7 linked regions of the Homo sapiens genome follow. The protein of the gene in region 7 purifies or fractionates together with the protein of the main gene of each other region. This does not show direct contact. Each region holds a gene or a part of one and is shown on either strand. Other genes may lie near its edges.

Region 1 (2,736 bases), on a different chromosome or scaffold from region 7:
GTTTTTTGAGACTGGAGAGATTTACAGCACTCAATTCCTTTGGCAATGAAACAAATAAATGCTGTCTCTTTGGCCTCACCAGCAAAAAGGAGGCTCAACACCTTACTAAGACTCTACCAGTATAGGAGGCAGTACATGATGCCATCATGGGTGGCTCCCATATGTGAACATGTAGAAACACAGGGACCAGCACAACCTTGTTTCATTCTGATTGAACTTATGCTTCTCTAAATTTGTCAGAGTGGCCTTGGATTATACCATGTATAGCAACCGAGGCTGCAACTACTCAGTGACACTACTTATGTGACTGAAATCCACATATGATGATTTAAATCAGATTTGACAATACTTCTGAACTAGAGTAACCTGGACCCTTTGGGCTTATGTACTTGTATGTGGGGAAAATAAGCCATAGAAGGGCTCTCCATAGGGAACAGGTTTGTTTTTTGGCCCAGCTATTGCACCCATAATTATTGATAATAACACCACATATCAGTACGTCAGTCAAAGCTCCCTTTATTGGGTCATAAAGTATAATAAATTGTCCTTCACTACATTCTGGCTGCCTAATAAAAAGACCTATTGGTCCTCCCTTGGAACTTAGAGTTGATTGAGTCAAGACCTTGGGGGACAGGACTGAGGTTAATACTGCAGGTTGGCTTCATCCTGCTGCTGTGTCTGATAATAGCCTGCATTAATTGCTATATGAGACCAAATGAACAAATTTGGTACTGACTAAACAACCCGACTGTCAGGTTAATCAGAGTAGCTGATAGAGTGGCATACTCATGTGAAAATTCAAGTTTGGCCAAGAACATCTCAGGCTGAGGAGCAGACTGTTGGAAGAGACTATCCACTATGGGCTCTGAGTGTCCCTGCATACTTACTGGGTATGTCAAGAATGCAAGGACTTTGTCTTTACCTAGTCCATGTCCTAGGCTTGTGTTTACACTAAGCTATCTTCAAGTATGGGGTAATAACTCCCTTTGGACAAAGACCAGGATTTTTTTGCTTACTATAAAAGCAGTTAATAACCCAAGCTTACAACATAACCCACTGTGTGCAGGCTTTCATCATGGGCCCTTTGTGTTCCTCCTGTGGGAACTAGAAAAATGAGGAACTGAATAAAACCAACATGAAGCTCTGGCTACAGCTTTTGCTGTGAGCGATAAGTCCTTTGTTTCTGACCCAGGTGTCTTATGCATTCTGTAGCATCCCACGAAACAGTAACAGGCTAACTTGTTAGCTTATAAGTAGGGTAAAATCTCAGACCATGCACAGTTATTGACAGACATCAACTATTTTCTTCTTGGCAATAGCTGGCATTTTAGGCACCATGACTTGGCTATCAATATATTTATTATTAGCATGACATATTATGAAAAATTATTTTCCAAAGACTTAGCCAGTAACACTACAAAAATAGAAAGCCCGTTAATTCCTGTGAATTTATCTGTGTGTGTCCATGTCCAGTAATTATTTCACTGTCTGTCTGAAGTACTAACAATACTAAATCCAATGCTCGGCGCCACGCCTCAATCTTTGGTGTAACAACGTCATAAACTCTCGGAATCTGCTCCAGTTTATTTGAAATGTCTGAATTAAAAATTCTACTATTTAGTTTACTATATTCATTCAAGATGTAAGATGAAGGAGAGCCAGAGTCTGTGGCATTTTGCAGATGATGTTGAATGTATGTGCTGGCTTCAAATTCTGATGAGTAATTGGCAGTGTTATATAGGAGAGTTGAAAGGTATTTCTGCCATCCATTTGCCAGGAATTTAAGCACAGTTGGTCTGTATATTGCCAGAGATGAAGCCAGCCAAGAGGAAGTATTATGCAGCCACCCTGAGCAGGCATGGTTTTCTTTTTTCAGAGATTGCTCTGCAAGAATATGAAGACAGCTAAGACACAAAAATTCAACTGCACCACCTCCAAGGAAGACCTTTTCCTCTTTTAGAGCATAATACAAACGATAGGCACATGTCCAGAACCTATCTTCTTTGATTTGCATCTGTGCAGTAACTGGGTTAGTGAGCACGGCCGTAACCAAATTAATTCCTTCTGTTTTTAATAAGATTGCGATTCTGTTGTTCCTATCTACAACATCCAAAGGGCTGCTTCTCCAGAAGGTCACGCAGACCCCGTCGCCCACACAATCTTCATTCACTTGTGTAATGTAGGCCACCTGTACTGCTCCTGCAGCCTCTGCAAAAGCCTGCATCACACTGCCATTCACTGAGCCGATTACCAACCGCTTACTGTTTATACATTTTTCAATTAAGCGTTCGGACACATTTCCTTGTACCAGGACAAGGTTCACCTTGAACTGGATTAACACCTGTAACACGTGATTTGCCCACAGTTCTTCTGAGCTGTCTTCTTGAAGCCGCATGCTATCTAATACTGTTTTAATATTTGCAGACTTATTAAATCCCAGGTGGCGGTAATTCTCTGTGAGGTCACCCTCAATGAGAACTATTCGCACAGGCTGATTCTGCAATTCCTTGATCACAGGATTATTAGATACTGACACAACAGTGATATATCCTGGACAAACACAAGAAGAAGTTTCAGGTAAGCCTGGTAGACAGCAAGTGAAAATTCTTGAAATGTCAAACATAAATGGTTTTGTACAGTTGCCTTGTTGCACACAAGCATTCTGATATTGCAGCTGTACTGCTTCTTCTACTAACTTCATGCTGCTGTGATCTCCATGACTCAAGCCTACTGCCA
Region 2 (4,080 bases), on a different chromosome or scaffold from region 7:
GGCTGCAAGGACTCAAAGATGGAAGAGTAAGCCATAGCAGGGGCATAAGTCCCAGAAGCCCACAGGGGGCAATATTAGCTACCAATTACTGAGTGCTTCTCTCCATACTGTGCATTCACCTTTAATCCTCACAACAACTAAGAAGGACATTATTACTCCCATTTCACAGAGGAAGAAACTAAGGCTCAGAGAGGTTAAGTAACTTTCCATAGTTATATCTGGGTAGGCAAAAAGTCTGATGCCCTGCACCTTTTACTATACCTTACTGTGTCTCTTAGAAAAAATAAAAAAAGGACATACAGTGAAGCAGCCCAGAGCTTACCTGACAGGTGGTTAACTGTATGACTTTATCTAAAAGAGCATCCCCATATCACTCATTTTCTGCTTTATTTTTCTTCATGCCACTTCTTGATGTTACATTATATATGACTACTTGTTTACTGTACACCACCCCTGCCAGAAACTAAACTCCAGGAGGGCAGGAACTCTGCTTTGCTCACTGCTGTTTCCCCTGCATCTGAAACTGTGCTGGCCCAAAGAAGATGTACATATATTTATATGGCGAATGAATGTAAGACCCTATGAAAGACTTGCTCAGCATGAAGGGGAATATAGAGCATATATGCACAGGATTTCTTGGTCAGCCCTGAGATCTCCGTGGCTGTCCCATTACCAGGGGTGCAAGGCTGCTGAACACCTGGGAGAAAAGTAACATGACACATGGGCACTCTGAGGTTCAAATTACGGTACCAATTTTTGTAACACTGTGAGAGGCCCTAAATCCAGGATAAAGCAAGACGAAGGGAAATTTAACACAACCTATTACAACTGTTGTTTGCCTTTCTTCCTCACAAACACTCCAGACATATCACACGTGCACATGCACACATACACACACACACACACACACACACACACACCCCTAACAAGGTAAATCCCCTTCCTGTGAACCGAACTTTATTCCCCCAAAATTCACGTGTTGAAGCCCTAACCTTTAGTACCTTACTGTATTTGGAAAGAAGGCCTTTAAAGGGGCAATTAAGGTTAAATGAGGTCATAAGGGTGGGGCCCTAATCCAATATGACTGGTGTCCTTAAAAGAAGAGACACCACGGATGCTCACGCACACAGAAAAGGCCATGTGAGGACACAGTGAAAAAAGCCATGTGAGGACACAGTGAGAAGGCGGCCATCTGCAAGCCAGAGAGAGGCCTCGGGAGAAACCAAACCTACTCACACCTTGATCTTGGCCTTCTAGCCTCTGGAACTGTGAGAAAATAAATTTCTGTTGTTTAAGCCTCTGTTGTGTGGTATTTTGTTATGGTAGCCCTAGCCGACCAACACACCCCCACAGTTTCAGATTATACAGCAGGAAAAACACACTACCAGTCCTCCAAACACAGCAGAAGGGTGTCAACAACCTATTAAACATATTTTACAACCTTTAATATTCGGCTTTGTCTGTACTGAAACAATATTTCTGTTTCCTCTGTCCACACAGACGCCAGTCTCCTGCCTGGAAAAAGCCAGAGACAGCACACATTCAATCCCCAACTCCACCCCCAGCTCCCGGGCCACCTCAAAGACGCCCAGCCAGCCAGACTACCGCAGGTCACGCCATGCTCTCCCTCCTGCCAAATTGCAGCCCCACATTCAACAATTGCCGCCTTGTACTGATCATTACTTCTTTAAAAATTGGACAACTAATACTGATTTTAACAGCAATACAGGTTATAATTTTGCTCTCCCCCAACACAAGAGCTGGAAGTCCTTCACTCGTGTATTTCACTCATGTGTATTTCCCCAACACCAGCACATGGGTAGGCACACAGATGCTCGTTCATTCATTCGTCAACGAGTATTTACTGGGGACCTACAATGTGCCAGACACCAAGAGAGGCACCGTGAACAAGACAGGCACAGCACCCACTCTTACCACACTTACTTTCCAGCCAGAGAGACTGACGTTAATAATAAATTATACACATCATTACAATTGTGATACGTGCTATGAAGAAGCACAAGACGCAGCGACTGCTTGTTCCCGTGCATGCTGGTCGGCCACCTGCCACGCTCCTGTGCATGAACCCTCCTCTCTCCCAGACACACATCAAGATGACCCTGTCTCTCCCAATGCTCCCGTCAAACCAACAGCAGCCCAACTCCCCCAACACATGCAAGAACCGGTCACAGCAGAGTGTCAGCAAATAGGCAGGGTCTGTGCCTTGTGCGCGGCCAAACACCGCAGGCCTCACATCTAAAGGATGCTTTCGCCAGGCTGGGACAGGGTCTCCCTCCTCCAGGCATCAGGAGTGTGGGGGGCACAGGTGGCCCCACGGAGCTCTGGGACCGGGCGATCCTCTCCACCGAGCCCTCCGCGCTGTCTTCCAGGCGCTATTCGGGCTGGAGGGCTCTCGCGGAACCAGACGCTCTGCCCCGAGGCAGGTTCTTCCCGCGGCGCCACAGCCCCTCCGGCCCTGACCCCGCCAGCCGGCAGGCCCCTAAGTCGACCGCGAAGACCCTTCCTTCCCCGCCCGCCCGCTCCTCCTCCGCTCCCCCTCCGCTCCCAGCCCAGGATCCTTCAACCCAGAGCCCGGCTCGGACCTCAGCCGCCCAGCCCCTGAACTGCCCACGCCGCGGCCAGCAGCTCCCACATCTCGGCGCCCCTCAGGGCCTGCACCGGCCCGGGGGCGGAGTCACGTACCCAGGCGAAGAGCGCGGCCGCCGCGGGGGCGGCCTCCGAGGCGCTGGGCTCGCGCTCCATGCGAGGACGCTCCGCCGGCGCTTCCGGGAGGGACGGCACGGGGGCGGCGCCTGCCGGGGGTAGGTGAGCGCCGGAGCCGGACCGGGGACGCGTGATGGGTAGGGCGCGGGGCGGGGTCTGTGGTGGGAAGCGGCCCGCAGGCCGGGAGAGAGGGTGCGGCCGGGCCCTCGGGCCACTGGGGATCAGTGGTGGGCGGGGCCGGACGACAGCCCCGGAGCCGCCTCCCAGTCAGCCCGCCCCGGCGGCGCTCGCAGCGTCTCCGCCCGCAGCCTCCTGTCTCGCTGGGCCTCTCAGCCTCTCGCTCCTACCCCCTCGTACTCTTTATTTTTAGTCATAATTTCATGTTTCATGCAGGTGCACTGCGCGCCACAGTTCACAAAGCTCCTTCGCGTTTTTGTCTCCTTGGAGGCCCACGACAGCCCAGAGGGGCTGACAGGGCAGCGATGGCATCACCATTTGCGGGAACAGGAAATGGAGCCTGAGGGGTAGGGCAGGGTCCTGCCCGGCGTCTCAGGCGCAATTGTCTTGAGCCCGCTTTGGTGTGCGTTCGCAAACATCTGAGGGGGCGCCTTGGGAGGCGAGTGGAGTGGCACGTCGCCGGTGTCGCCCTCTGCACCTGGCACGGAGCGGGAACCCGCGCCTCGCGACGCTGAATGGGGGAGGCTGGTTAGCGTCGACTCCTGCCGGGGCAGCCTCGGCGCTCCGGGCACGGCCCTGAGCTCATTCTATTAATAATACTGGATAATCGTCACCCAACGAACATTTCCATATAAAATGGCTTTTCTCAGACAGCGTCGTGTTGCTGATGGGAGTTAATTAAGTTCAATTTATCTGAAGGAAAATATGGCACCGCGTACCGGGAATACAGAACACATAGGGTCACATTAAAGATGATCATCCACATTCACATTCGGTAGCACTTGGCCCCTCTGCTGACACGGGCCTCCAGCACTCACTGCCCTTCACCCCTGGGCTTCTGGGAAGTGTCTCCAATGAGCTCTTACACTGTCCTTTCCTGTTCTTTCACTCCATCCACTTTTAGGAGTTTCTGCCTGTAAGACCACTTGAGGGCAGCCCCTCACCTTTATCTCTCCAACCTGTGGCATCTGGAGAACGTCGATGACCATACCAAGAAAAAAGCAAACTTTGGAGAGATAAAACAGCTCTTCATTCTCTAGGGATCTGAATGTGCAGGAGCTATACCATGCTTACTGACTGTCTTATGAGTGGGCTTTTTTGTGCTGACCATTTCTTTGAAGCATGTGTAACAGGATGTAAAAATGGGATCCTTCACCGCTCAGTTTTGGCTGAGCAACA
Region 3 (3,500 bases), on a different chromosome or scaffold from region 7:
CCAATTATTCTCCATAAAACTTGGTCCCATTTTAAGTGGAGTCTCACTAAATGGTCTGTCCCTGAAACCAGTGAACGTCAGATGATGGGACCCCCTATACTTCTCTTTAGCATTTACCTCGAACACTGAATACCTACAGTGCTGGTCAGAAACAGGTGATTTAGGCATGTTCGGTTCCCTCCAGGAATCTAACAGGGGGACAGACAAGTCAGAGAGTAATGAGTGCTCTGGGGATATAAACGAAGCGCTCTATGAACAGAAGCGGCAGCAAGTCATTTGGAGGGTGGGGGGAGAATCAAGGAAGGCTTCATTCAGAGAGGACATTTAAGTAGGGCCTTGGAAGATTTTATTAATAACAAGGAATGGGAAAAAGGCATTCCAGGTAAGGGCACAGCATGAGCAAAGACAAGGAGCTGTGCAAAGCACACTGGGAGCTTCACAGAGAGATGCGGCTAAAATACACAGGGGACCACAGGGCAAACGGGCCAGAAGCTGGAACCAAAATTTAAACTAAGGCCCAGTGTTGAGAACACTGAACGCTATGGTTAGGCATTTGAATGTGTCCTTAAACAGCCAAAGGTCCTTGAGCACGGGTACCCAGGATAAAAAGCAGTAGGTAAGATGGACAGGACAGAAGAAAACACAGATGGGGCAGTGAAACAGGGTAACTCGCTTTGAACAGACCAAGTTTAAAGATGCTTGGGAACTTTAACTGGCACAACAGTGTGGCAAAGAAAGGGACAGACAGTTCTGCAGTGTAACTAACAAGACTTTGTAACCATCTGGGGGAAGGGAGAGGGAGGACAGTCAGAGACACTTCCCAGCAAACAGCAAGGCTGATCCAGACACCGTGCACAGGCGGGGGTGGGGCAGGCAGAGGGCAACCAGGCGGGGAGGGAGAGGCAGATTCCTCGGCAGCGGTTAGGAAAACTTCACCTACTATAGGGTCAAACTCTGACCTACAGGGGCCAGGCAGGTGACAAATGAACAAAGCTGGCTACTTCTAAGATAAATGGGACCATGAAGACTGTAGTATGGCCCACTGGAAACCACCACTCGGCTCTAGTGGATCGATGCCATGTGAGAATGCAGGCCCCAAAGGGCCAGATCATTTGAGTTTTCAAGAGAAGCCAAAAAAAAAAAAAAAATCAGATTAGTGAAATCTCCCAATTTTTACAGATTGTGTGTCATCCCACAAAACATTTTTCTGTGGACCAGATTTGGCCCTTGGGCCACGTGTTTGGGACCCCCAAATCTGTGTGCAACTGAAGAGCCACTGTTTGGTGGATCAGCCCTAAGATCAGACTGAAAACAATGAGGGAAAACGGTCCAAACAAAAGGCGAGCATCTAAAAGCAAATTTAAAAGCCAGAAGCAAGCAAAGCACAGTGGAGAGAGAGGTTTCAGAAGGAGGGGTGAAATCGCACTCTAAAATGTGAGTGCTGCTGGGTGCCAGAGGCAGGCAGTGGGCCAGCAAGGAGGCGAGGAAGAACATACCTTTAGTGCCAATCCACAGCTGGTCTTGTTCTAGTTTAAAGGTGAGTCTCACTTTTCCTCCAGATTTATTGTACATGCCGGACAGCGGTACCGTTGGCAGGCGCTCCTGAAGGCACGAGAGAATGGTAAGAGATGGAGGGACAGTCAGAAAAAAAGAGAAGGGGGCCAAGCGCGGTGGCTCACGCCTGTAATCCCAGCACACTGGGAGGCCAAAGCGGTCAGATCACCTGAGGTCAGGAGTTGGAGACTAGCCTGGGCAACATGGTAAAACCCCGTCTCTACTAAAAATACAAAAATTAGCCAGGTGTGGTGGCACACCCCAGCCTGGGTGACAGAGCAAGACTCTGTCTCAAAAAAAAAAAAACAGGGAAAAAAGAGAAGGGACAGGATTGGAGGAACCTCAAGTCAGACGGTGGGGCTGCCTCATTTTCAGAATGCTCACAAAGAAATCCGCCTTACCTGGGCCCCCTTAACAGATGGCATCACATCTTCAGGTTTTCCTTTATCCAACACTTTCCTGTGTTGCTATAAGTCAGAAGAGAGAATGAAATGAAACAGCTGACTACATTTCGTCGTGTTACTATTCCCTTGAAAGAGAGGATGAAGAAAGCCTTAGTGTTTTGGCTCAAAAGCTTTTAATGACGACAGACTATGGATCCTTTGAAACTATAGCACAGTGCTGTCCAGCAGAACTTTCTGGGAGGGCGAATATGTTCGTACCTGTGCTAGCCACTACCTACTGCTGTGACTATTACACACTTGAAATGCAGCTACTATGACTGAGGAACTGAATTCTTAATTTCATTTTAACCAGCCACATGTGGATAGCTACCATATTAGATATCAAAGTTCTACAGCAAACGGGATTTCCAGATTGCCCTCCTCCCCTCAAAAAAAAAAAAAAAAATCACCACTGAAATGATTAAACCATCAAACTAAAGAGGGCGACAAAGGGTGTTGCTCTCCTAGCAGACAAAAAATGGCACCCACCTTTTTCAACTTAAACTTCCAGAGAACACTATAAGATGCTGGTAATCCGTCTAACTGCCTAGGAGGAGCAGTTCTTCAACAAATGGAGACCCAGCCCATCGCCGAAGTTTTCCCCACTGCCCTACCCTTAACTCCAGCTAAACAGGAACCTGGAAGAGCCACCTTTCAGAAAGAAATGCTTATTACTCTATAACCTGACATTAAGAAGCCTCTAAACTCCACCCCTACCACCTGCCCCAAGAACTCTGAGGCAGCTCTTCAAGGATTCTAAGTTCAGGGCCCCTTAAACAGTTCTCCTGCCTGGCCCAAATGCCTGAGTCTTCTTTCTTCTCCATCTGTGGCCTTATAGGCATAGCCACTGCTTGGAAGGCTGGAACTAGGGGACAATGAATGGATAGAAGGTAACAATTTAATCAAATGTAAGCACTAGGCAGCCACAAGCCAGCCCAAATCCTCACTGGCATGGTGGAATCCCTCTGGGAGGAATAAACTCAGCACTGCCAGACTGCTAGCAAAAAGTCACTCCAGACATCACCCCCAGACCCCTTAATAAGCTGGTAAAAAGGCAAGGGACTATATCCCTCTCATTAGGTCATGTGATGCATCATAATTGGCCTCAATGAAACACAGCAGCATGGGCTGGAAGTACAATTCGAGTCACACCTTTCAAGTACCTTTTGAACAAGATTTCCTGTACTGTGGAGAACAGTTCTAAGCCTGTTAAGCTACCATTAGTAACTAAAAACCTGTATTTAGGAGGCATGTTATGCTCCAAGGGTGTGACCATTGCGACCACTCCTATCTGACGTGCTCACATTTCACTATTTCATACATGTGGCAAAGAAAAACAGGAATATGAGAAGAAACTCAATCGGTTTCAAGACACTGAGACCCCATATGTGGGGGTGAAGTCTCCAAATCAACACCTTTTAGATAATTAATATAGGTTTATAACCCCTTATCTGAAACCCTAGAGTTTTGAACTTTCAGGGTTTTGGAATTTTTATAAAGATA
Region 4 (3,500 bases), on a different chromosome or scaffold from region 7:
GAAGAGAGCAAAGAACAGAAAGTCGGGGGTAAAGGGTAGAGAGAGGAAAGGAGGAAAATAGAAGAATTCTATAGCACAGATTCATTCTCTGGATTTATGTGTTATCAGAAATCCCAGGGAAAAAAAAGACACAAACTGTTATCACAAAAAGCATATATGTAAAAAGCATGAAAGAGGAAGTGGTTGGAAACAATTCCTAGGTAAGTCAGAGGCAAAAACCCAGGAAGCCCTTGCATAGCCAAAATATCCTTGCAGAGTGTAAGTCAGTCTTCCTTCAATGGCTGTACATCAGCAGACTGAACCTTTCCACTGGCAGACTCTTTATTTTTATCCGTAATGAAGTATAAGGGAGTATAAGCCATAACCTACTTGTCAGAAAGCAAGCTTGGACCTTAATGACCAGTACAGAAAAGGGTGCAGAGCAGCTAACCAGAACTTTGCAGCAATTTTTTAAAAAAAACAAAATAAAACAAAACAAAAACAGCAGCTATTTATGGGGGGGTTGGGGGCCTGGAGTAAGGCCATAAGCTCAGACACACACCAGGGGTGAGTTATCTCTGAGTATTTTTTTAAGACTTCTGGAAGCCCTAATTTCCTCCTCCTTGCTTTATAGTCAGCTGATTAATCATATCAAAACCATTCAAAAATATGAAAAGATCGTGTGCTTGCTTCAGACAGAAAGGCAGATAATAAATATGATAAGCTGCAGTCCAGTTGTGTGAAAACAGCACTGAATGTCAAGTCATTCATGTCCAGCTCTCCCCATCACCAGCTGCCTGCCCTGCTCAGCCCTGCCTTCCTTACTGCTCACTGTTGAATCAATGGACTTGCAATGATTCAGTCTGAATCAAGGACTAAATCACAGGCTTTCAATGTCTGTGAGAGTGCTTTACACTGTATACTCCAATGTGCCAATAAAGGTTAGTTCTCGATAATCTCCCCAGTTCCTTAGTGAGACAGGAAAGATAAATCTGTTCCCAGGTCTAAGGAAGGAATCTGGTGACGCTACAAGAAGCCTGTCTACAATGCCCAGCACTCCCTAGTGCTCTACTGACCTGAGCCTAACAAGCCTCAGTGATGCTGAGACTCAGGTGGCCATAGCAGGGGCAGAGTGGGAAGTGTACATCACAGAAATACATTTTAGGAAAGTGACACCCATACACTATCACTTTGCTTCAAGATTGAAATGTGGCCAACACTGACTGGGTTTTAAAATCATCTAGCCAGGAACCTGTGTTAGGGAAAGGTGTAGCTTAGCAAATGCAATGGTTTTCAATCTGGCTCTTAGCCATTCCCACAATGCCTGCCCTTTCCCAACCAAAGAACGTGCCTGAGCAGAGAAAGAACAGCAGGAGCTTTCCAGACATACCTAGCAAGTCCCTGCCCACCATCCTGACAATGCTGGTCCCAAGTCCACTTTCTCTCCTGGCTTAAAAAGGGGCAGTTAAAACTCCAGCCATTTAATGCACACAGGTACATGTGCATTAGACTTCTGAAGTTCTCCCCTTACACTTGCAAAACTAATCCAACTAGGCCAAAGGAAAAGAAGGATTGCTCTGACCCACAAACCTAAAAAATGCATGTGCACTAAGTCATGAAAGCCTCAGAGAGGGGGGAAAAAGACTAAACCCATTAGATTTCCAAGCAACACTAAAACTCCCCGGAAGTACAAGGACATCAAGGTCAAGAGAGGATTTTATTCTCTTATTCTTCATGCACTCTACAATTGTTAATTGAAAGGAGTAATGTCTTTCAGATGACAAATACCCAGAAAACATTTCTTGAATAAAGCACATGCCACAGACCCTGGTACAGTGAAGTTTCAATAATGCAAACTATGAATCTTAAAATAATCTTAACAGGCAATATAGCTAGTCTTGGGAATTATCTTCAGTAGTTATGTTCTACAGGAATAGAGAGGAAGGGGAGAGGACCACAATGGTATTTTAACTTTCACACTTATGGAAACAAACCAGAACACTTAACATTGCCCCCTTCCTCAAATTTAGGAACAAGGTATATCGCCTCCGTATCAAATCAAGACTAAAAGGAAAAAAATCTGCAATATGGCAGGTGTTCCCTATCAATCACCACCTGACTTATCTATGATCGGTTTTCCCTTTCAACCTCAACACTTTAACCCCAGGCAATGTTGGTGCTCCAGGCCCTTCCAAATCCACCCCAGACAACAGATTCTTTCCCTCCCTTCTCAGAACTTCCAAGAACTAGTCCCTTCTGGGTCTTAGAGGTTATATACTTACACATTTCTGGTGACTAACCACGTGAAGACAACAATCAGTAACAACAAAAAAAGCAGCAGCTAACATCTGAGTATTTACTATGTCATGCACTGTCCTAACTGCTATCAATATATTATCTCATTCCATTCTCACAAAAATCCTATGATCTTGTTGCTATTATCATTTCCATTTCACCAATGAGAAATCTGAGGCATAGAGATTACACAACTTGCTCAAAGTCACAAATTTACAAAACACCAGAACCTGCCTTCAAACCCACATTATCCCCACATTGTGTGGATTCCTAATCCGAGAGATTACAGATTGCCTCTAAAAAGAATGGTTCAGATGGGAATTGTTTTTAATCTTGAGTCTTGTGCAAAGACAGAATTGCCAATCAAAATTTTGTCATTAAGTTGCCATAACAAAGACATATCTAAGAAAATATGAATGTAGGAGAAAAGTCCTTGAAAAAAGTCCTTTTTTACAAGCAAGGAAGTTTGTTTTGTGTTTTTCATTTTTTATTTCCAAAGTTCTGGACCTCAGCATTACAATAAAGGTTTATCCACAGTGGCTGAAAGAGCTGCTGGCTGAGGTGGTGAGGACCTGACAATGAAGTATTTAAACTCAGGTTACCAGGAAAACCTGAAAAGTAGGAATTGATTAACTCATGACTATAAGAATAGATTAAAGGTCTGACCGGGCACAGTGGTTCACACCTGTAATCCCAGCACCTTGGGAGGCCGAGGCAAGTAAATCACCTGAGGTCAGGAGTTCGAGACCAGCCTGGCCAACATGGCAAAACCCCATCTCTACTAAAAATACAAAAATTAGCCGGGTGCAGTGGCAGGCACCTACAATCCCAGCTACTCGGGAGGCTGAGACAGGGAGAACTGCTTGAACCCAGGAAGTGGAGGTTGCAGATGAGCCAAGATTGTGCCACTGCACTTCCAGCCTGGGCGACAAAGCAAGACTCCATCTCTCAAAAAAAAAAAAAAGAAATGGATTAAAGGTCTTTGTTGAGATTGGAAGAAGCAGCAATACTTAGTACCTAACTACCAGATAATCTAATAGCCTAATGGACTTGAAAATAGCTAAACAAAATAAATAATTTCTATTTGTAATCTCAGTATAGGATTCTGCTTCAGCAATAACAGAGAAGGGAGAGCCAATAAGGACCCTAAAACACCTGCTGTGGCCAGCTACCTGCCTGCTTCCCACCACCCTGTGGCCCTGTACTCATCCCTTCTTTCCTCTGAT
Region 5 (3,500 bases), on a different chromosome or scaffold from region 7:
AGACTGTCTCAAAAACAAAACAAAAAACAGCAATAATTACAGATAAAAAAAGAAATTTCTAAATTTGATTTATCTGGAGAGGAATATGATGTAATATTTTATCTTATAGTACAAAGTTCTCTAAGATGTATTACTCTATAATGCCCAGTTTGGAGAACATTCTACTTGGTAAGGAGTTAGAGGCAAAAACAAGAGACTTTTACCCCCTATTTAAGTAGTCTGTATGAAGAACACAAAAGACAGCATAAAGCATCGTTTCTGTCATACTTAGCAGTTTTGAAAGGCTTAGCTCATTTGGAACTTTATCCTTCCTGCCTTGATTATTTTTTATACCACTAATCTGTATTATTTGTTGCAACCAATGATCTTTTCATGTCTTGTATGTCTTCCTAAAATCTGAACATAGTTTCTTAGCAACCACACAGATTAAATAAACAAACATGTTAGTAAAAGGGTAAGAGATTTATATATTTAAAAAACCCCTCAGCACCATAGGAAGTTTAAAAAAGTAAAAATAAAAAAATAGACATTTTCTTGTTATAGTCTCTTCCAACTTCTAGTCACTTAAGTATAGTCTTTTCTCATCCCAAGTATTTGACAACTATAATGAATTCCCTGTATGAAATTCATGTTTTCTTTAAGTAGATTACATCTCATTCACAGAACTCCCCCTCTTCATAACACTTTTCTGACTAAAATCTACTGGGCTCACTTTCCCCACTATCTACCATTCACATAAAAAAAAAAAAAAATTGGGAGGCCAAGGTGGGCAGATCATAAGGTCAAGAGTTTGAGACCAGCCTGGCCAATATGGTGAAACTCTGTCTCTACTAAAAATACAAAAATTAGCCCGGTGTGGTGGCACGTGCCTGTAGTCACAGCTACCCGGGAGGCTGAGGCAGAAGAATCACTGGAACCCAGGAGGCAGAGGTTGCAGTGAGCCAAGATCGCACCACTGTACTCCAGCCTGGGCGAGAGAGCAAGACTCCGCCTCAAAAAAAAAAAAAAGAAAGAAAGAAAGAAAAATCTGTGGATACTGTTATCCTGTAAACTATAGAATCCTTTATTTTTCTTTTTTTGAGACAGGGTTGCTCTGTTGCCCAGGCATAATTACAGGTCACAGCAGCCTCCGCTTCTCAGGCTCAAGTGATCTTCCCACCTCAGCCTAACGAGTAGCTGAGGAAGGCACATGCCACCACGCCCAGCTGATTTTTGAATTTTTTGTAGAGACAGGGTTTCACCATGTTGCCCAGGCTGGTCTACAGTTCCTGAGCTCAAGTGATCCGCCCACCTTGGCCTACCAAAGTGCTGGGCCTACAGGCGTGAGCCACTGTGCCTGGCCAAAATATAGGATCCTTTAAAAATGCAGTAGCTGACAGGGATCACATCTTACCTACACTGTCTCCTGTTTAACTTACCATAGTGCCACAAGTTGGGTGTAGTAATTTTTTTATATACAGTTTGTATTAATTTAGAGCATCTCATTTAAAAAAAAGTCTTAGTATTTAAAAAGTGATTTAAAATTACATTATGAAGTTGAAGTATCAACAATAATAGTAACTTAAGAACCTACAAAGTCAAGCTTCTAAAGTATAAATGAAAGAACTTGAGGTTTTTAAAACTTTAGGAATCATTTGTAGGTAGTAACTAGGCTTCAAGCATACTTACAGTTTTCAAAGAATAATACCAGGTATTTCTTGACTTCATACAAGAAGAAAAAGTGGTTATAGTGCACTGTGCTACAATGAGTCTAATAAAAGTTAACTACTAAAAAAAGTTTCCATTAGGGTGGCCAGATAAAGCCTAAATAGAGAAAACAATATTGAACCATTAGGAAATAGGCAGCTTAATCTTCCCCTAACTAATTAAAAAAATACATGCCTTTTTTTTTTTTAAAGCACACCATAGAAATGACGTAGAAAGGGAAAATATCCTGCAATAATATGGCCAGAAATAAGTTTGCTGATAGTCTTCCAATATTTTTCTATGCGCGTTATATATATGTATATACACGCTTTAAACAAATTTGAGATTTAAGTATTGTTTGGTAGCTGTTGGAAAAATTAAGCTGTTTTTGAGAAATTAATTTGATTTTTGCAAGAAACAAATATGCTAGAAAAATTTCAAAATGTTCACTTAATGTAACCTTGTCAGCAAAACTGAGCTTCAAATATAGTTTAACTCTCATTAACATGATATGTCTGACTGAAATGGAATACTTCTGTAATCCTGATCACTTAGCTCCAAATTATTTTAAGACATGGATTTTCTAAATATATCAAAGTACTATAATCAACTTGTAAATATAAGTTAGCAAGGAACACGGAGTTAAAAAAAAAAAAAGGCATAAGCATAAGGGATATGTAGACATGTCAAGAAAATAACATTACTTGAATGTAAACAACCAAAAAGGTTTTAGTTAGAATAACCTATAAAAAATTAAGTTAAAAGTCCAAATTCTCTATTAAAAAACTAACCTAATGGAGATTTAAAAAATTCTGTCAATCTAAATTTTTCTAAAGTTCTTATGAACATAATAGAGTTGCCTAAAGCATAAATCAATTATATTTCAATAAATATTTGAGTATCTATGTGTTATGCATCTGGAATGCAAAGGTGTTTACATCTGGTAGGAAAGACAGGTATATACAATGTGCTACTAACAGTGTATGTACATATAGTACAAAAATAATACTAGAATGAAGGTGACAATGGGAAACATTTTGAAGAACGACTAGCTTATCCTGTGGAAGGGCAAGAGATGCAGTCTAATAAAACATGAACAAAACAGCAGTGATGTAGTCCGAAAATCAGTCAGTTTGATATGGCTAAAACATCAAGTATGCTTGTGTATAAATGCGGAAGCTGAAAAAGAACCAATTTTATGACGGCCTCGTATATGGACGCATTTGGTTATCTTCTCTATAATTATTCTCTTGGTGATCTCATTCAATCTTGTAGTTGTGTGGCTTTAATGCTGCCAATTTCCAAATTTCTGTCTCTAGCCTATAGTTCACTCCTGAACTCTACATTCCTAGATCCAAGCAATCTCCAGCAGACACTTCAAAGTGAACATACTGCAAACAATTTCAAATCTTTGTTCCAAAATCTGCTTTGCTTGCAGTTTTTCCTGTCAATTGATGGCCTCTCCATCCTTGGCTGCAGTATATGTTAACTCCAAGTCTTTGTTCACATGGTATCTCAAAAAGGCTTACTCTTGATACACTTTTTTCCTTTTCTTTTTTTTTTTTTTTGAGACGGAGTCTCCCTCTGTTGCTCAGGCTGGAGTGTAGCGGTGCAATCTCAGCTTATTGCAACCTCCGCATCCTGGGTTCAAGCAATCCTCCTGCCTCAGCCTCCTAAACAGCTGTCATTACAAGCATGTGCCACCACTCCTAACTAATTTTTGTATTTTTAGTAGAGATGGGGTTTCACCATGTTGGCCAGGCTGGTCTTGAAATTATGGCCTCAAGTGATAGGCTCGCCCACCCTGGCCTCCC
Region 6 (3,500 bases), on a different chromosome or scaffold from region 7:
TTTGCCTCAGTTGTAAGCTGGAAAGTCACTGGAATAACTTTAGAGAATAATAATGATACGTGGCTTTTTAGATTTTGCAGTACATATGTTCAGAATTATGTACAAGTTGAAATGTCTGTGTACTGATCCTCAACACAACTGATGAAATCTCAATTATGAAAGAAAAAGAAAACATTCATCTTTTGAAAATAGTATTCTTTGTCATTCACATTGAGAAATGCTATTTTAGCTTGTTTGGATACCTAGCTAGTTTGGATACTCTCTTTTGAGTCACATAAAGAGAGGAATATGTCCCATAGAAAATAATGGTTCGTGATAGGTATGCAACCCAGCTATCAAGGAATGACCCTACTCTTTGACAATAATTAAGGGCCAGGAATATAAAAAAGGCTTTTAATTGAATAGCCAAAATCTGTGTCACAAGGGACAAACACTAAGGGTTTTTTTGTTTGTTTTGTTTGTTTGTTTTGTTTTTGAGACGGAGTCTTGCTCTGTCGCCCAGGCTGGAGTGCAGTGGCGCCATCTCGGCTCACTGCAAACTCTGCCTCCCGGGTTCATGCCACTCTCCTTCCTCAGCCTCCAGCGTAGCTGGGACTACAGGCGCCCGCCACCATGCCTGGCTAATTTTTTGTATTTTTAGTAGAGATGGGGTTTCACTGTGTTAGCCAGGATGGTCTCGATCTCTTGACCTTGTGATCCGCCTGCCTTGGCCTCCCAAAGTGCTGGGATTACAGGTGTGAGCCAACACGCCTGGCCTAAGGGTTTTGTATTTTACCTTTCCTATGGGAAAGCCCCAGCTTCCTTTTCTACTTTTAATATGTGAAGGAGGAAGATAATCAACTGTTCATGGAGTTTTATTTTTAATCTGGTACAAGTTGAGCATCCCTAATTTGAATATCAAATTCTAAATGCTCCAAAATCCAAAACTTTTTGAGCACCGTGACATGACACCATAAGTGGAAAATTCCACGTCTGACCTCATGTGATGGATGGGTTGTAGTCAAAACACAATCAAAACTTTGTTGTATGCACAAAATGTATGCATATATGGATGCACTTTATGAAACATAAATGAATTTCATGTTTATACTTGGGCCTCATCCCCAGGTCTAAAGACTTCTGGTCTCAAGCATTTTGTTTAAGGGATACTCGCCCTGTATAGTTAAAGTAAACATGTTTGGCCTGTAAAAGGATAAATTGTCAGTGATCCCAAACTTAGTTGTTTAGACTATTTATTTCTAAAGTTTTGAAATAATTTGGTAAGTTTTCATTTGCTTTGATAATCGTGTACTTGTTGATGAGCCATGACACATTTCTATGAAGATTTGACATTTAAAATAATATTTGCAGCAGATTTTGCTTCAGATCATCGAAGTAGGTTTATATAATCAATGTCATCTTAATAACAATCATTTATATAGGACTTATTATATGCTAAGCACTATTTTAATCACTTTACATTTATTTACTTATCACAACAACCCAGTAACAAGTGAGGAAATTGAAGCAGGCACAGAAAATTAGGTAAGGCCACAGAACTTACCTATTAAGTGGTAGAGCTGGATTTGAACCCAGGCAATCTAATGCCAGGTGTTCACTGCTGTTTCCCAATCACAGACTTCCAATGTTGATGTAATCTGGAGATTGAAAAATAGAGTTTCTGCCATTTGAAAGAAATGTGAAAAAGGATATTTTAACATAGAATGCCAGTACGTGAGAGAGATAACAGTATTGTGGTTGAAACTGGCATAGAAATGTAGGCCCAGAGCTCTCATCCTGTCACTTTGACATCCTCTTTCCCCCTACAGAGTCCCTGAGACATCTCTGCTAAACCGTCTGTGACTCTAGGGAGCTGCGGTTTGAAAACCACATTATTAGCAGCACATTTTAGTCATAAGGAAATTGAGCTTAAGAGTCTTGTCTATAGTCATTGACAGAGGCTTTCTTTAGGGTGTTGTTTTCTTTATGAGGGAGTAATAATACTTCAGTTCTGTTTTCTAGAGTGTACTAATTTAGCACAATTGAATTAAGAGTAATGGTGGCAATGAAAATTTACTTCCTAACCATTTGAGGAGGGATAATTTGCCCTGGCAAGTTTGTTGATATGTATGTTATTTCTGAGACTAAAATTCAACCACATATGAATAGCATAGATAGGCTAAAGTATAATTATTTGTATCACTGTCATATATTGGTACATTTTCATGTATGTTCTTACCATTATTAATTGACAAATTAGTGGATAAAATTGCACTAAAATAGAAAATGATTTCTTCTTCAGGCGTTTCTCCAATATTTTACTTTCTTATATCTAAGGTAGTTATCCCCTTTATTCATTTTAGCAACATTTTTCAATAAGCATATGTCATATACATATTACACCAAGTACTATAGGTGATGCTATAGATTGTATCAAAGTACAAGTAAAAAAGAATCCTGACAGCTAATAAATATTCAGGCAATTTTGAATATATTAGCAGACCTAGATTTGAATCTGTGTTCCAACATTTAGCTATGTAACCTTGGATATAAGTTGCTTAACTTCTGTCATTTTAGTTTGTGCCTCTGAAAATGAGGGTAATGACTTGTGAGAATTGAAAGAAATGATGTACATGAAGTGCCTAGCACAGAACCTAGCATACATTCAACAGTACATGCTATAATAACATTGTGAAATGAGGATTTTCCTCCCTTTTCTCAATGGAGTTGATAAGGAAAAATGATCCAGCAAATATTTCAAAAGGCCTTTTGATCAATGAATGTGTGTGCCTGAGTACATTTGAGCTATGCAAATATGTTATAAAATTAATTTGTATTTTTTTTGAAGTCCAATACATCTCAACTAATGGAAAACTAGTGGAGACTCGTGATTTAACAGACCAAAATAAAAAAGCCAGGCATTTATTTACTGTTTGTAATCTGCATTTGCATATTCTTAGGCTAAAATTCAGCAAGGTTTATTTGTTTTAAGTTAGGAGTTTTCATGAAGGGTTCAGAATAGATTTTTTCAGAGTTTTCCAGTCTAAACCAAACTCAACATAAAGCACAGGGATTCCCTTTCATTAGTGCATTTGCATAAATGCGTATCATGCAAATTTGGGTGGCATGATTAGAAACTCTACTTTTCTATTGCAGTTTTTTGATAAGATGTATGTTTACGTTTCATCTGAAGCCTTTGCCTTTCAGTGTAATGTTTCGCAAAGCTGCGCTATTAGGTTGGTGCAAATTGCTAAGTTCCTTCTCCTTCTACTCATACTATCTGCCTCTTATCACAGAATTCATCTGCACCAAGCCGCATTCATTAGTTATGCGATATTTATTTTACCCTCAAGTTTTTTCTCAGTTCTTTATCTGGTTAATTGTCTATAGTGGTTTTTTTGTCCTGGTATTTTCTCTCGTAGGAAACAAACTCTCTGGTAGTTACTAATATAATTTAGCTTCTCTATGTGCACACCTTGGTGCCATAAATGAAAATACTTTTCTGTGTACATATGGATAAC
Region 7 (3,500 bases):
TTTGTGTAACGAAGCCCCTCATGTAAGCCAGTTTCTTCATCTGGTGCTCAATTAATGAAACTTATTTTTGGAGTTCCTAGAGGAAAAACTAGCTATTTTCCACTTCTGTGAGATGCAATGAACGTATACCATACTTAATGATCACGTTAAGGGATTTTTAGTGGTAACTTTATTAAAATCTATTTCTTTTTTTGGTCACATGTGCTAAGTTCACAATCTAACTTGATCCTAACATGCAACTCCAACATAAATGAACTTTTTTCATTATTATATGGCAAGAACATGACACACTTTTAAAGCAAGGACTTCTTTCTAAAGGCCACGTTCAGAAATATAATCCTCAGATTTTCTTTTTCTTTTTTTTTTGGAGACAGAGTCTTGCTCTGTTGCCCAGGAATGGAGTGCTGGGGTGTAATCACAGCTCACTGCAGCTGCAAACTCCCAGCTTCAGGCAATCCTCCTGTCTCAGCCTCCCGAGTAGCTGGGACTACAGGTGCGTGCCATCACGCCTGGCTAATTTTTGTATTTTCTGTTTTTCTGTAGAAACGGGATTTCACCATGTTGCCCGGCTGGTCTCAAACTCCTAGCTCAAGCAAACAACTTCTGAGCCTCGGCCTCCCAAAGTGCTAGGATTACAGGCGTAAGTTACCGCACCCAGCCAATCCTCAATTGTTCTATGTTTTTTTGTTGTTGTTTTTTTTTTGTGGGTTGGGGGCGGGGGGACGGAATCTCGCTCATCACCCAGGCTGGAGTGCAGTGGTGTGATCTCAGCTCATTGCAACATCCGCCTCCCAGGTTCAAGCGATTCTCCTGGCTCAGCCTGAGTAGCTGGGATTACAGGCGCCCGCTACCATGCCTGGCTAATTTTTTTTTTGTAATTTTGGTAGAGACGGGGATTTCACCATGTTGGCCAGGCTGGTCTAGAACTCCTGACCTCAGGTGATCCACCTGCCTCAGACTCCCAAGGTGCTAGTATTACAGGCGTGAGCCACCACTCCCGGCCTAATCCTCAATCTTTCTAAAGCAACTTCATATGTTTCTTTTTAGTTACTCCTGAGTCTTCCAATTTGCATTTTTTTCCCTTGTAGATTGTGTGACTTGATCTAACCCAACTTCTACATTCTCTCTACTCATAGAATCAGAGCTAGAGGAAACTTAGAGATCACCTATTTTTTCCTCTCTGCTCACAGAGCTGGCTGGAGATTTCCATTCAGTGAGCTCCAGATTATAATAAATTCCTTATTCTCCGTTTAAAATGAATTTTTATAGAAAGGTGGAAATTTAATTGTACACATAAGTTTTAAAAAGACATTTTAAAAAGTGATACTAAAACTCAGTGAACAGATCCACTTGGTATTTAGCGTCTGCCAGGCTGGAGTGCAGTGGCACTATCTCGGCTCATTGCAACCTCCGCCTCCTGGGTTCGAGCGATTCTCCTGTCTCAGCCTCCCGAGTAGCTGGGACTACAGGTGCCCATCACCATACCCGGCTAATTTTTGCATTTTTAGTAGAGGCGGGGTTTCACCATATTGGCCAGGCTGGTCTCGAGCTCCTAACCTTCTGATCTGCCCGCCTTGGCCTCCCAAAGTGCTGGGATTAGAGGCATGAGCCACCGTGCCCAGCCAAGGATTTAATACTTCTCAATGACCTCCAGAGGAATCCCATAAAATTGGGCCTCTTCTTGACAAAATTTATTTTTGAAGACAATTTTATTTTGATGTCTTGTTTTTATAATCCTTATCCCTGATATTTCATATTTAAAATTTTTCTTTTAAAAAACACTATACACGTTTGAAATTTGTCTTTGATTAAAAAAAAAAAAACAGGCATGGCAGCTCACATCTGTAATCCCAACACTTTGGGAGGCCAAGGTGGAAGGACTGCTTGAGGCCAGGAGTTCAAGACCAGCCTGGGCAACAAAGCAAGACCCATCTCTACGAAAAATTTTAAAAGTCAGCAAGATGTGGTGGTGCGTGCCTGTAGTTCCAGCTACTCAGGAAGCTAAGGCAAGAGGATTACTTGAGCCCAGAAGTTTGAGGATGCAAAGAGCCATGAACACACACTCACTCCAGCCTGGGTGACAGTGCAAGACCTTGCCTCAAACCAAACCAAACAGTACTAAATTTTCACAATTCTTTTTTTTTTTGAGGCGGAGTCTTGCTCTGTCGCTTAGGCTGGGTGGTGTGATTTTGGCTCACTGCAACCTCCGCCTCCCAGGTTCAAGTGATTCTCCTGCCTCAGCCTCCCAAGCAGCTGAGATTCCAGGCACATGCCACCACATCCAGCTAATTTTTGTATTTTTAGTAGAGATGGGGTTTCTCCATGTTGGTCAGGCTGGTCTCGAAGTCCTGACCTCAGGTGATCCACCTGCCTCAGCCTCCCTGCCTGCTGGGATTACAGATGTGAGCCACCGTACCCAACCTAAACTGGATTTTAGGGTGTTTTTCACTTTCTGGATGAAGTATAAACACTGAGGGGATCAATTATTTATGAAGTATCAGCCTAGACTAAGTCACAAATGCAAAAACTTTGTCACATTACGATATAATTCCCCAAAGCCCACTTCATGACATATGCTTTTGCTTTCTTTTAAAAGATTAATAGCAAATGACAAATGTGTTTTATACTGAGATTTAAAAGAGACCTAGGATGGGCGTGGTGGCTCACGTCTGCAATCTCAACACTTTGGGAGGCCAAGGCAGGCGGATGACGAGGTTAGGAGATCAAGACCATCCCGGTTAACACGGTGAAACCCCGTCTCTACTAAAAACACAAATAATTAGCCAGGCATGGTGGCGGGTGTCTGTAGTCCCAGCTACTCGGGAGGCTGAGGCAGGAGAATGGCGTGAACCCAGGAGGCGGAGCTTGCAGTGAGCCGGGATCGCGCTACTGCACTCCAGTCTGGGCGACAGAGTGAGACTCCCGTCTCAAAAAGTAAAAAATAAATAAATAAATAAATAAATGAGACTTTTCAGATCTTTGAATTAAAGTCAAAATTCTAAAAATTGTGTTTTAATGGCCTTAAGCAAAGTGTACACGTTATTTATAATAAAAGTCTAACTAAACACAAAGATATTACTGACACATATTAAGGAAACATTATTTACACTTATGTCGTGCTTAATTAAAATGCCGCACTCTGGGATGAACCCTAGCTTCAAGATGAACCTGACACACAAGGGCCAAACCATAAAATTGTGTCATGACTTCTTTTGTTACAGACCTCTTTGAGAAATTAAAGTGAAGAAGCCTCTTCCTAGAAACTTCCACATGTGCACACACACAATTTTAATACAATGTTGAGGGAATAGGTCATCCTGAGATCTATCGACTTCAGGGAAATAATTGCTGCTACTGAACATTATCTGGGAAAATCACCTTAAAATATAATGCTTTTGGTATTCATATACCGTCCAACAGATTAAGAAGGATATCAGACAGTCTGGAGTTTGAAAATGTAAGTGAATGCTCTGGTGTCTTCTGTTCATAACTGCTTCAAG

Evidence for each region.
Region 1: the proteins of FERMT2 (region 7) and BBS12 purify together in Homo sapiens (affinity purification with mass spectrometry; one large-scale study listed by BioGRID and IntAct). This does not show direct contact.
Region 2: the proteins of FERMT2 (region 7) and SERGEF fractionate together in Homo sapiens (co-fractionation; one large-scale study listed by BioGRID). This does not show direct contact.
Region 3: the proteins of FERMT2 (region 7) and UBFD1 fractionate together in Homo sapiens (co-fractionation; one large-scale study listed by BioGRID). This does not show direct contact.
Region 4: the proteins of FERMT2 (region 7) and ISOC1 fractionate together in Homo sapiens (co-fractionation; one large-scale study listed by BioGRID). This does not show direct contact.
Region 5: the proteins of FERMT2 (region 7) and NAA50 fractionate together in Homo sapiens (co-fractionation; one large-scale study listed by BioGRID). This does not show direct contact.
Region 6: the proteins of FERMT2 (region 7) and PDCD10 fractionate together in Homo sapiens (co-fractionation; one large-scale study listed by BioGRID). This does not show direct contact.

Annotation. Positions count from the first base shown.
Region 1 is NC_000004.12:122,742,704-122,745,439, reverse strand, and holds the end of BBS12 (chaperonin-containing T-complex member BBS12), read right to left. Parts: coding exon 1,415-2,736; 3' UTR 501-1,414; downstream 1-500. UniProt on the Homo sapiens protein: Component of the chaperonin-containing T-complex (TRiC), a molecular chaperone complex that assists the folding of proteins upon ATP hydrolysis.
Region 2 is NC_000011.10:18,010,248-18,014,327, forward strand, and holds the start of SERGEF (secretion-regulating guanine nucleotide exchange factor), read right to left. Parts: upstream 2,801-4,080; 5' UTR 2,764-2,800; coding exon 2,704-2,763; intron 1-2,703. UniProt on the Homo sapiens protein: Probable guanine nucleotide exchange factor (GEF), which may be involved in the secretion process.
Region 3 is NC_000016.10:23,560,727-23,564,226, reverse strand, and holds part of UBFD1 (ubiquitin domain-containing protein UBFD1), read right to left. Parts: intron 2,022-3,500; coding exon 1,956-2,021; intron 1,603-1,955; coding exon 1,497-1,602; intron 189-1,496; coding exon of another isoform or gene 118-188; intron 1-117. UniProt on the Homo sapiens protein: May play a role as NF-kappa-B regulator.
Region 4 is NC_000005.10:129,108,249-129,111,748, reverse strand, and holds part of ISOC1 (isochorismatase domain-containing protein 1), read right to left. Parts: intron 1-3,500.
Region 5 is NC_000003.12:113,725,750-113,729,249, forward strand, and holds part of NAA50 (N-alpha-acetyltransferase 50), read right to left. Parts: intron 1-3,500. UniProt on the Homo sapiens protein: N-alpha-acetyltransferase that acetylates the N-terminus of proteins that retain their initiating methionine. Has a broad substrate specificity: able to acetylate the initiator methionine of most peptides, except for those with a proline in second position.
Region 6 is NC_000003.12:167,689,893-167,693,392, reverse strand, and holds part of PDCD10 (programmed cell death protein 10), read left to right. Parts: intron 1-3,500. UniProt on the Homo sapiens protein: Promotes cell proliferation. Modulates apoptotic pathways. Increases mitogen-activated protein kinase activity and STK26 activity. Important for cell migration, and for normal structure and assembly of the Golgi complex.
Region 7 is NC_000014.9:52,944,551-52,948,050, forward strand, and holds part of FERMT2 (fermitin family homolog 2), read right to left. Parts: intron 1-3,500. UniProt on the Homo sapiens protein: Scaffolding protein that enhances integrin activation mediated by TLN1 and/or TLN2, but activates integrins only weakly by itself. Binds to membranes enriched in phosphoinositides.